Regions from separate parts of the Homo sapiens genome. Here regions 2 and 3 are each reported to be linked to region 1. Evidence: microRNA targets listed by miRTarBase, many of them from high-throughput screens and not tested one by one. Region 1 holds a microRNA gene; each other region holds the end of a gene's coding sequence.

What was found. Region 1 holds the annotated microRNA hsa-miR-6866-5p (UUAGAGGCUGGAAUAGAGAUUCU, at 1,670-1,692, opposite strand). A microRNA usually pairs through its seed, bases 2 to 8, with sites in the 3' UTR of a target mRNA and lowers its output. Matches are read on the target gene's strand: a 7mer-m8 pairs with bases 2 to 8, a 7mer-A1 pairs with bases 2 to 7 and ends in A, and an 8mer does both.
Region 2: miRTarBase lists SRSF3 as a target of hsa-miR-6866-5p. Seed matches in the 3' UTR shown: 7mer-A1 at 2,316-2,322.
Region 3: miRTarBase lists IREB2 as a target of hsa-miR-6866-5p. Seed matches in the 3' UTR shown: 7mer-m8 at 2,825-2,831.

What each region holds. Positions count from the first base shown.
Region 1 is chr17:40,160,270-40,163,629 of GRCh38, reverse strand. MIR6866 (microRNA 6866) reads right to left here and starts at 1,697; the gene lies at 1,629-1,697. It overlaps CASC3 (CASC3 exon junction complex subunit), which reads right to left. Exons shown (of 14, transcript NM_007359.5): 4 at 1,719-1,877; 5 at 1,477-1,628; 6 at 729-905; 7 at 1-149.
Region 2 is chr6:36,601,600-36,604,599 of GRCh38, reverse strand. It overlaps SRSF3 (serine and arginine rich splicing factor 3), which reads right to left. Exons shown (of 6, transcript NM_003017.5): 5 at 2,806-2,892; 6 at 1-2,638. The coding sequence ends at 2,611. Among named protein-coding and RNA genes, the nearest start is that of SRSF3, 8.7 kb to the right of the region's middle.
Region 3 is chr15:78,497,616-78,500,975 of GRCh38, forward strand. IREB2 (iron responsive element binding protein 2) reads left to right here. Exons shown (of 22, transcript NM_004136.4): 22 at 418-3,360. The coding sequence ends at 528. Among named protein-coding and RNA genes, the nearest start is that of HYKK, 8.3 kb to the right of the region's middle.

The DNA of each region.
Region 1 (3,360 bases):
TCCTGGGTGCAGACATACGGCCGGTACCTGCAGCATTCCTGTTAATAAATGTCCTTGGTGGTAGGGTGCCCCCAAGACCCTGGTGGCGATGAGACTTGTTTAGCCGCTCACCGTTCCAGTTTGGATCTCTTTGTGGAGGACTCCCATATCTACAAAAAATGGAATGAAGAAACTGTTAGGAAATTAACAAAAGGAGGCTACGCGCGGTGGCTCAGGCCTGTAATCCCAGCACTTTGGGAGATCGAGACGGGCAGATCACTTGAGGCCAGGAGTTCAAGACCAGCCTGGCCAACATAGCGAAACCTCATTTCTACTAAAAATACAAAAATTAGCCGATCGCGATAGTACGCGCCTGTAATCCTGGCTACTCAGGAGGCTGAAGCAGGAGAATCACTTCAACCCAAGAGGTGGAGGTTGCAGTGAGCCGAGAACATGCCATTGCACTCCAGCCTAGGCAACACAGCGAGACTCTGTCTTAAATAAATAAATAAAAAGAAAAGCAAAGAGAATTCTTTCTAAAAGATATCAAGAGTCTACACTCTATTTTTTTTTTCCTTTTTTTCTTTTTTTTTTTGGAGACAGGGTCTCACTATGTTCCCCAGGCTGGTCTTGAACTCCTGGCCTCAAGCAATCCTCCTGCCTCAGCCTCCCAAAGTGCCGGGATTCCAGGTGTAAGCCACCGTAAGCCACCATACCCAGCCTGGTCTTATGTTCTAAAATGTCCTCACCGGGGTTTCCGGATTCTTCGAGGTTTGATGTCATCAGGATTATGAGCTGAGCGAATGTCATAACCATAAAGAGCAATGAGCTCCTGTCGGGACTTTGGGGCCTGCTCATCTTCCCGGAACTTGTCATGCTCCCAGCGACCCTCATCCTTCCATAGCTTTCGCTGACGCCCCTTGGGTCTGGATAAAATGAAGGAAAAGTGTCTTGGGTCAGCAGAATTCTCCAAGTAGAGATGTTCTTGAACAAAATGGGTCAGGGAGGCAGGGGGACAATAGGAACTTTACGTAGTCTCCTCATCATCCCAAAGAGATTATAAAAAACAGGCCTCCCCAAAGCAAGCGTGAATCACAGAACCTCAGGGCCTGCTGGGCTCAAATATAACAGACACAGAAATGAGAAAAAGACTTCATTTCATGCCATTCAGTACCTTTGAAACATCTCCTTTCTCCTAAAAGGCAACCTATGCAAGTATTTCACTTCTCAGACGCCTTACACCTCAGACTAAGAAAAGCAAAAGTATAATAATTAAGAGAAGATGAGTTCTGGAAACAAACTGTCCTAGGTCTGTATCTTAGCTGCCTCACCAAGAGTTACCAAATATTCTAAGCCTACTTTCCTCATTTGTACGATAAGGATAATCATAATACTTATCTTAAAATGCTGTAATAAATGAAATACAGGCAAATCGAAGTACCTGGCCTACATGTGTAAAATACATGTTAGACAGCAGCAGCAGCAAGTGGCTTTTACCTGACTTCCTCCTCCTGAGTTTGCCCTCGAAGATCATGCTCAAAGAAGAGCCCTTTCCGAGGTATGTATGCTGGATTCTTCCGATCTTCATCATCATCCAAATGCTTAGGGCCCTTTTTACCCACTTTGTTCTCCACAGGCTCTGTGCTCTCCTAGAGGACAGATAAAGGGATCCTTACTCTTCCAAGCCTCAAGAATCTCTATTCCAGCCTCTAAAATGGAGGACTGTGGAATGTACTAACCTGTCCGTCCCCACTTTGCCTCTCTCCAGTCACAGTGCTTTTGGTGTCAGGCTTTTCTTCTCCCTTCTCTTCTTTTGTTGAAGAATTAACAGCATCATTAGCTTCTGATTTCAGCTCCACTTTGGAGTTTTCCTCTTCACTGTATTCACCTTCTTCACCCTGAAAAAAGTTTCCCTGTCAGCGATGCATATAAGATCTGAACGGTGCATTTTAATTCCCACCCCTGCCCCCAACCCCAAAACAAAGTCTCTGTCACCCAGGCTGGAATACAGTGGCACAATCTCAGCTCACTGTAACCTCTGCCTCCAGGGGTCAAGCAATTCTCCTGCCTCAGCCTCCTAAATAGCTGGGATTATAGGCGCCCACTACCGCGCCTGGCTAATTTTTGTATGTTTAGTAGAGACCAGGTTTCACCATGTTGGCCAGGCTGGTCTTGAACTCCTGATTTCGTGATCTGCCTGCCTTGGCCGCCCAAAGTGCTGGGTTTATAGGCGTGAGCCACCGTGCCTGGCTGCATTTCAATTTTCTACTCTTTAGGAATACATTTATCAATAAATTTTTAGTACAACATAGAACTGAAAAGCAAACAAATCAATATTCTTACCCATATTTCTAGAAAATAAAGATCCTATTTTGGCCTGGCACAGTGGCTCACGCCTGTAATCACATTTTGGGAGGCCAATGCAGGCAGATCACCTGCGGTCAGGAGTGTGAGACCAACCTGGCCAGCATGGCAAAACCCCATCTCTACTAGAAATATAAGAATTAGCCGCACTTGGTGGTAGGCACCTGTAATCCCAGCTGCTCGGGAGGCTGAGGCAGGAAAATCGTTTGAACCAGGGAGGCAGAGCTTGCAGTGAGCAGAGACTGCGCCACTGCACTTCAGCCTGGGCGACAGAGCAAGGCTCTGTCGCAAAAAATAGTAATAATAAAAAAAAGACACTATTTTAAAAATATCACATTAAAAAAAATACACACATACATACATATATATCCACATAGGTATTCCTGGAACATATGCAAGAATTATTAAAAGTGGCAGGCTGGGCGCAGTGGCTTACACCTGTAATCCCAGCACTTTGGGAGGCCGAGGCAGGCGTATCACTTGAGGTCAGGAGTTCGAGACCAGCCTGGCCAACATGGTGAAACTCTGTCTCTACTAAAAATACAAAAATTAGCCGGGAGGCGGAGGTTGCAGTGAGCCAAGTTTGTGCCACTGCACTCCAGCCTGGGTGACAAAAGCAAAACTCCATCTCGAAAAAGCAAAACAAAAAAACAAAAAAACAGCGGCAGCCTCTAATGGGCCCAGAGGATAAGAATGGAAGGGAGACTTACTATACGATACCTAACATATAAGAGGAGCTTAATCTTCCTTGATAATCTCTCTCTCCATGAATTATCTTTTTTTTTTTTTCTGTTTTGAGACAGGGTCTTGCTCTGTTGCCCAGGAGTGCAGTGGCACAATCATGGCTTACTGCAATCTCAATCTCCTGGGCTCAAGTGATCCTCCCACCTCAGCCTCCCAAGTAGCTGCGACTACAGGCACATGCCACCACACCTGGCTGATTTTTTTTTATTTTTAGTAGAGACGAGGTCTCGCTATGTTGCCTAGGCAGTTCTCAAACTGCTGAGCTCAAGCAAT
Region 2 (3,000 bases), not on the chromosome of region 1:
CGTTTGTAAGGATCTCTAAGATACTCAAATGGTAGACACAGGGTACCTGTGCTTGGTAAAACTACAACTTCCCTACTTTCTGCTTAAGACATGGAGGTCAGAAGCAACCCACAATGAACTGTGAACCAGAGATCAAACTAAATATTCCTTTTAATAGAAATGTGAATCTTGCCATGTTGGGCAGACTGGTCTCCAACTCCTGGCTTCAAGAGATCCTCCCACCCGCCCTAGCCTCCCAAAGTGCTAGGAATTACAAGTGTGAGCCACCACATCCAGCCAGTGTCTTTGAAAACAATCAAATATAATCCTTAATGTTTCTTTACATTGTCATCAAGTATTAGTAACAGTGACTTCTAGTGAACACCTTGATCCTTAAACCACAGGTCTAAGTTCAGTTTTGTGATTCCTTTCATTTTTACACTCAACCCTGAATATGGACAAGACCGGTTAGTGTGACCTGTTATTTTAGGAATTACAACTTTAAAAATTCCTAATAGCCACAATCTAAATGTGCAATTCAAAGCTTTTAACAATTTCCATGTTCTAAAGTTTCTAAGAGTCTTGAGGTTATGCTAGGGCTCCTGGTTAAAGTAACTGCCAACTGGGACTGTATGTCACCTAAGTCAGGATAACTCCCTGGTGAAGTTACTTTTATTTCAGGTTCTGTATTATTTCTCTTAGCCATATTATACCCGTAACTGTCCTTTTTACAGAAACCCTTCCAACTTAAGAGCCTGCAAGGAAGTCATATACTGCCCAAAAATGCCCACATAAGTTGTCCATTTATAAAAAGCAATGTAATTGACATATTGCATGGCTTCCGTAACTTCTTAGCTATCTTGGCTTGTTCCTAACAGGAACAGGTTGTAGGCTATGTGAGAATACTAAAGACAAAATGCCCAATGCCAGAGCTCTCAGTAAATAAACAGGCTGTCTGAAAAGTGTCTTTCTTGAACATGCTTAACTTTAAGGCTGAACCTTCCTGACACCAATTCTCCCAAGATTTGTGTAAAAGGTGGAAATAAATAATTTGTTTAGGAACTGTATCTTAATGTATCCATTTAGCTTGAACTCTTAATGCAATGACTTATCTTTCATATTTAAGACAGTCAATACCGCATAATCCAAAACTATCTTAAGAGCATATTTAAGGAAACTAAGCCACAAGACTGTTGCATTATGATTTAATCTAATTGCACAAAAATTTGAAATTACAACACCTGCCATTTTCTAAGAGGAAGGTTATGCATGCCTCCATATTCAATTCTGCACTGTTACATTTGAACCATATTGTGAACTTTTACATCATGATGGATCAGCTTAGAATTCCCATGCAACACCTCAAATTATAAAATGGAAGCAATTTTTAGACCTGTGGAAAGTTTTCATGCTAAAGATAAAAGCCATTTGTTAATGGGCAACTTACTTTGTGTTTAAGAACCAGGTTGCTGCTATACTTTAAAATGTTGGTCACTAAATATTATGGACCCTGAACTGGCTTCTATGCCTAAAAAAAAAAAAAATGGGTTAACTATCACTTAGGTGACATCTATATTTCCTTCACTTCAGAAGACTAATCCATAGTGCCTCTCAGCTGTTTCTTATAAAATAAGAATCGTGTAACCAACTGCTTCCCATGGGATAAGAACAATGGTAACAGTGGGTTCAACTGACTATACACAATTATGCTAATATTTTATTAATTCAAAAGCACTTTACAAGAAAATATAAGTATGGCTTCCAATAGGAATGTTATACCTGGACTTGGTACCAAGCTCACAGATTTGAGTTTGCAAGGAAAAACAGGCTTTCAAGTTAAAGAACAATTTGTAACCAAAACTTTAATCCCAAGGATTCTCACAAAACATATTACAAATGACAGCATGAAAAAAAAATCTTGCACAGTAACTCAAAGTTCGGCTCTACAATGTACCCTTAAACTGGCAGGACATTTTTGAAATCACAAATTTGCACATAAAGAATGTCACGAACAGCCATGTATCCATATACAGCAATCAAATAAGGAACTTATGACCTAAAGCAAAGGTAAACTTTCTTGAAACTTAACATTCTATACCAACTAGGCAACCTCTGCCCAGGATGAGAGTTGGATTTTTCAAAAACCTCTAATTTAATAGTGCAGCATTTCGTTTTCCCTGATGGCCTGTGTTTCACAGCAGTTTTTAAAGACTGCTTGTTCAACTATAGCTGCAGCCTATATCCCAGCTATGGAAAAAAAAGTAAATCTTAGTTCAATTTTTGCCAGTTGTTTCTGTATTTAAATTTAAAAAAAAACACACTTCCGCTGGGCAGGTTTAGAGGTTTATTATCAGTCTGTGCATAACTAAAAGTTCAAAGCAAATTCAATTTTGCTTAAGGGAACATTGTAAAGTAACAATTCTTGGTATTACATGCCTCGTATGATCCATTTCAAACCATAGAGAATTACACCTTTGTGTCACTGTTTCAAGAGACAAACAGATTTGAACAGCTAAAACATCTTAAAAATGCACCAAGCTTATGAAGTCTCAAACAAAACTTGAATTTTCTGTACATACTCCTGTCAAATGAAGTAATTTCCTGTACACCACTTCTCTTGCAAACTGTCTTCTATTTCCTTTCATTTGACCTAGATCGACTAAAAAAAAAAAAAAAAAAAGAAAACAAAACATTACATCTGTAACTTGGTGACACTTTAGTGACATATCGAAATAGAACTTTAAGGTAAAAAATTTATGGCTTAGAAGACAGGCCTTAGCATACTATGTATGCAAAGTCTTAAATACAAGTTATCAAAGATCTTACCTACGAGACCTAGAGAAGGATCGGGACGGCTTGTGATTTCTCTCCCGAGACAGCGATCTCTCTCTTCTCCTATCTCTAGAAAGGGACCTAAACAAGCAAAAAAACATTAGGACCAATGAGGTATGATAAAATTATACATAAATATTTTCTTGATCTGGCATGGTGACTCATGCCAATAATTCCAATATTTTGGGA
Region 3 (3,360 bases), not on the chromosome of region 1:
TTTAACCGAGGCATACATACCACTCCAAAGAGAGCAAAGTTGAGCGTTCAAAGTTAGAGCAAAACAGACTTTACAACTAAGAAAAAAGGGGAAAGAGTAGGAGTTACTGATTACATGCAATCAATATTTGGTGTAAAATGAATGTGAGTAGTGAGTATAACTTCCCCAATTAATAAGTCAAAATCTAAATGCAGCTATTTTTCTACTTAACTATGAAGCCCATGGTCAGGTATCTCAGGTGTTTTTCAAGCAGCAGCAAAGTTTCAGGCAATCAGAATATAAGAAATTAGAACCAAGATAAATCAGACAGAATCTGTGGCAAGTATAGTCATTAAATATGAAGACAAATGGTCTTAACCATCAAGTAGCACCTGGAAGATTTACTTGCTCACATGAGATGTTTTTGCTCCTTTCAAGACAAGCACTGGAAAAGTATTCAGCGTGATTGCTTCGTTTGAAGATGATGTGGAAATAACATTATACAAACATGGAGGATTATTAAACTTTGTGGCACGAAAATTCTCATAGTATCTACTTACCATAGATACCTTTCATAACTGGTAACTGCAAAGCCTTTTGTGCTGGACCCAGGAATCCTTACCATGGAGCAGCAGATAGTCCCAGTATACTCACTTATCTCATCCATGGATGTAAATGATGATGAATCAACATAGTAACTGAAATGAAATCTTCTTGATTTTAAATAATATACGAATGGTGCTATTAATATTGCTAAAATCAACGTGTGAAGTGTGTTGTGGAAGAGACCTGTAAGTATGGGGGGGGGGCGATATTTTATCAGACCATTTTGTAAATAAAGGCAGAATTTGTGTTGAAGATTCTTATATGAATAACCTTCCTGGATTTGTTTAGTTTTGCACCAATAAAACTGTGTACTACTGTTTGTTGGTTTAAGAGTAGCAGATTGAAATATAAGAAGCCAGATTAGACTCTAAAATTGTGGCCATTGGAATCTCATTTATAAATGGACCTTTTAAGTATATTAATTCCTCTTCAGAATTGAGCTGGACACATTTGGCATTCTTAGTTTGTCATATAACCAGGTTTATCCTTAGTCTAACTGCAAGGGATGGAACCTGCCCCAGGTCACAATCATTCTGTCCAATCCAGCCAAGGTTCCCTCCACATATGAAGATGGACCATGGCAGGATACAACTGATTGTGTGGCACCATGTATTAGCAGTGGGAATATGTATCACATATGATGCAGCCTTTCATATTTCAGCAGTTTGCCACTGTGACTGTCTGGCAAGCCCCCAGATGGCGTTATATTAATTGGATTAGATTATTTTGCTCACCTTATGTAATACTGTAACTTCCTATAACCTAATATTTTCGGTATCATTAACCAAAATTTCACACTCATAGTTGCTAAAGAGAATGTTATTCAATCATTAAACTCTGAACTGATTTCTTCTATACATTTAAATTATCCACCCTCAATAATACGGGTGCTCAACCCTATGCATTTTTTAAGTGTTGCTATTTCTTAATTAAATTGATTTCCTGTCATTTTGAATCATTTATCACCTGCGATGCATGATTCTATTAATTTTGTTATGTTACTGTTTTAACCAAAGCTGACCGTAAGGATAAAACACTTAAGTTGTTGCTGAGTACTATATATCCTCAATATGCATGTCTGCCCATCACATCAAATGTTCTGTCAACAAGATGTTTGGTAATTTTTTTTAAAAAGGTTGGAAAATTAATTATAGAAGGTTCTATACTGTTTTTTTAATTAAGAAACTAAGTCTAGCAGGCTAAAGGTTAATTGTAGTGATTTTTTTTCACATAGATATCTTTCTATGACCTAGTTAGTTACTGCAATTCAGAATTAGTTCACATTGCATAAAGAATTACTTGTTGTAAGCAAAATGCTGAAACTACCAAACCAGTGGATGAAGACCACTAAGAACTTTGCACATAATCATACAATCTTTTGAAAATATTTTGCAAATATGTGTTTAGACAATAAGATGGACTAGAGTTCGACAAAATGATTTCTTTATTTAAATTTTGTATAAGTATTTTCTTCGACACTTTCAAATTATATTGTGTTCTTGATATATGCTGTATATTTATTTGTTAGTGCATGTGTTTTTAATTTACATGAAAACATGAGTTAGGAGAAATTACAGGTTGAAAGATGAAATGCCTGTATGTGCTCTGAAGAAATGGTAATTCCAGATTGTGCAGGGGGAAACAAATCTATTTTGTTTTGTTTTGTTTTTTGAGACGGAGTCTTGCCCTGTGGCTGGGCTGGAGTGCAATGGCGCGATCTTGGCTCACTGCAACCTCCGCCTCCCGGGTTCAGGGGATTCTCCTGCCTCAGCCTCCTGAGTAGCTGGGACTACAAGCATGCACCACCACGCCCAGCTAATTTTTGTAGTTTTAGTAGAGATGGGGTTTCACCATGTTGGCCAGATGATCTGAATCTCTTGACCTCGTGATCCGCCCGCCTTGGCCTCCACAAGTGCTGGGATTACAGGTGTGAGCCACCACACCCGGCCTATATTGTTTTGAAAGCATACTCTATATATAGTTATGGGCAGAGGCACAGGCATCCTCAGCAGCTGATTCAGGAGATGATGGTAAAGCTAGCTAACTATGAATTAAACATTCACATATCCAGTCTACCTGGTCCAGTAATAATACAAGCAAATCTTGTATTTCAGGAACAAATCAAGGTTCTCTTAATTTTTTGGCTTATATACAATGAAGTAAAAACTTGATAAACATGGTTTCAAATTGAGGAGGAGAGTCTTGGATGTATGTTTTAATATGTATACCTTATAATTCTGCCTCTAGCCAAATGCTATGTTTGCAAAATGTGGCATCTGTTAGTTTTTATTGTCTGTGTCTTCTTTGTTTACTATACCTTGGGTAATTTTGTGTTACCAAAAAAAAAAAAAAAAAAAGGAAGTGTAATGTCAGACACACAAGAAAAGCAAATCAGTGTTGTAAGCTTAAAGTACAATTTCAAAGGTCACTACCAACAGCAGGGTTTTTTTTATACTTTGAAAACATTATGCTACATATCATTGCCATTTTCATATTTTGGGGTTTTGCTACTCTTATACAATGGAATCAATGGAAATGTCATCCAGCCACTGAATTGCCATTATTATATCTAAAAAGTTTCTAAGATGACAGTTATCACTATTTTGTTTTATCTCCATGCTGACATTTGAAAGAAGGTACTAGTATCCCTCTAGCCAGATTGCTTAGTTTTTCGTTGGTAATCAAACAACAGTTGTACTAAAGGAAAGTAAAGCTAGGACCTAAATCAGAATCATAGTTGCCTGCATATATGGTAACAAGGTCGTGTGCATTTGC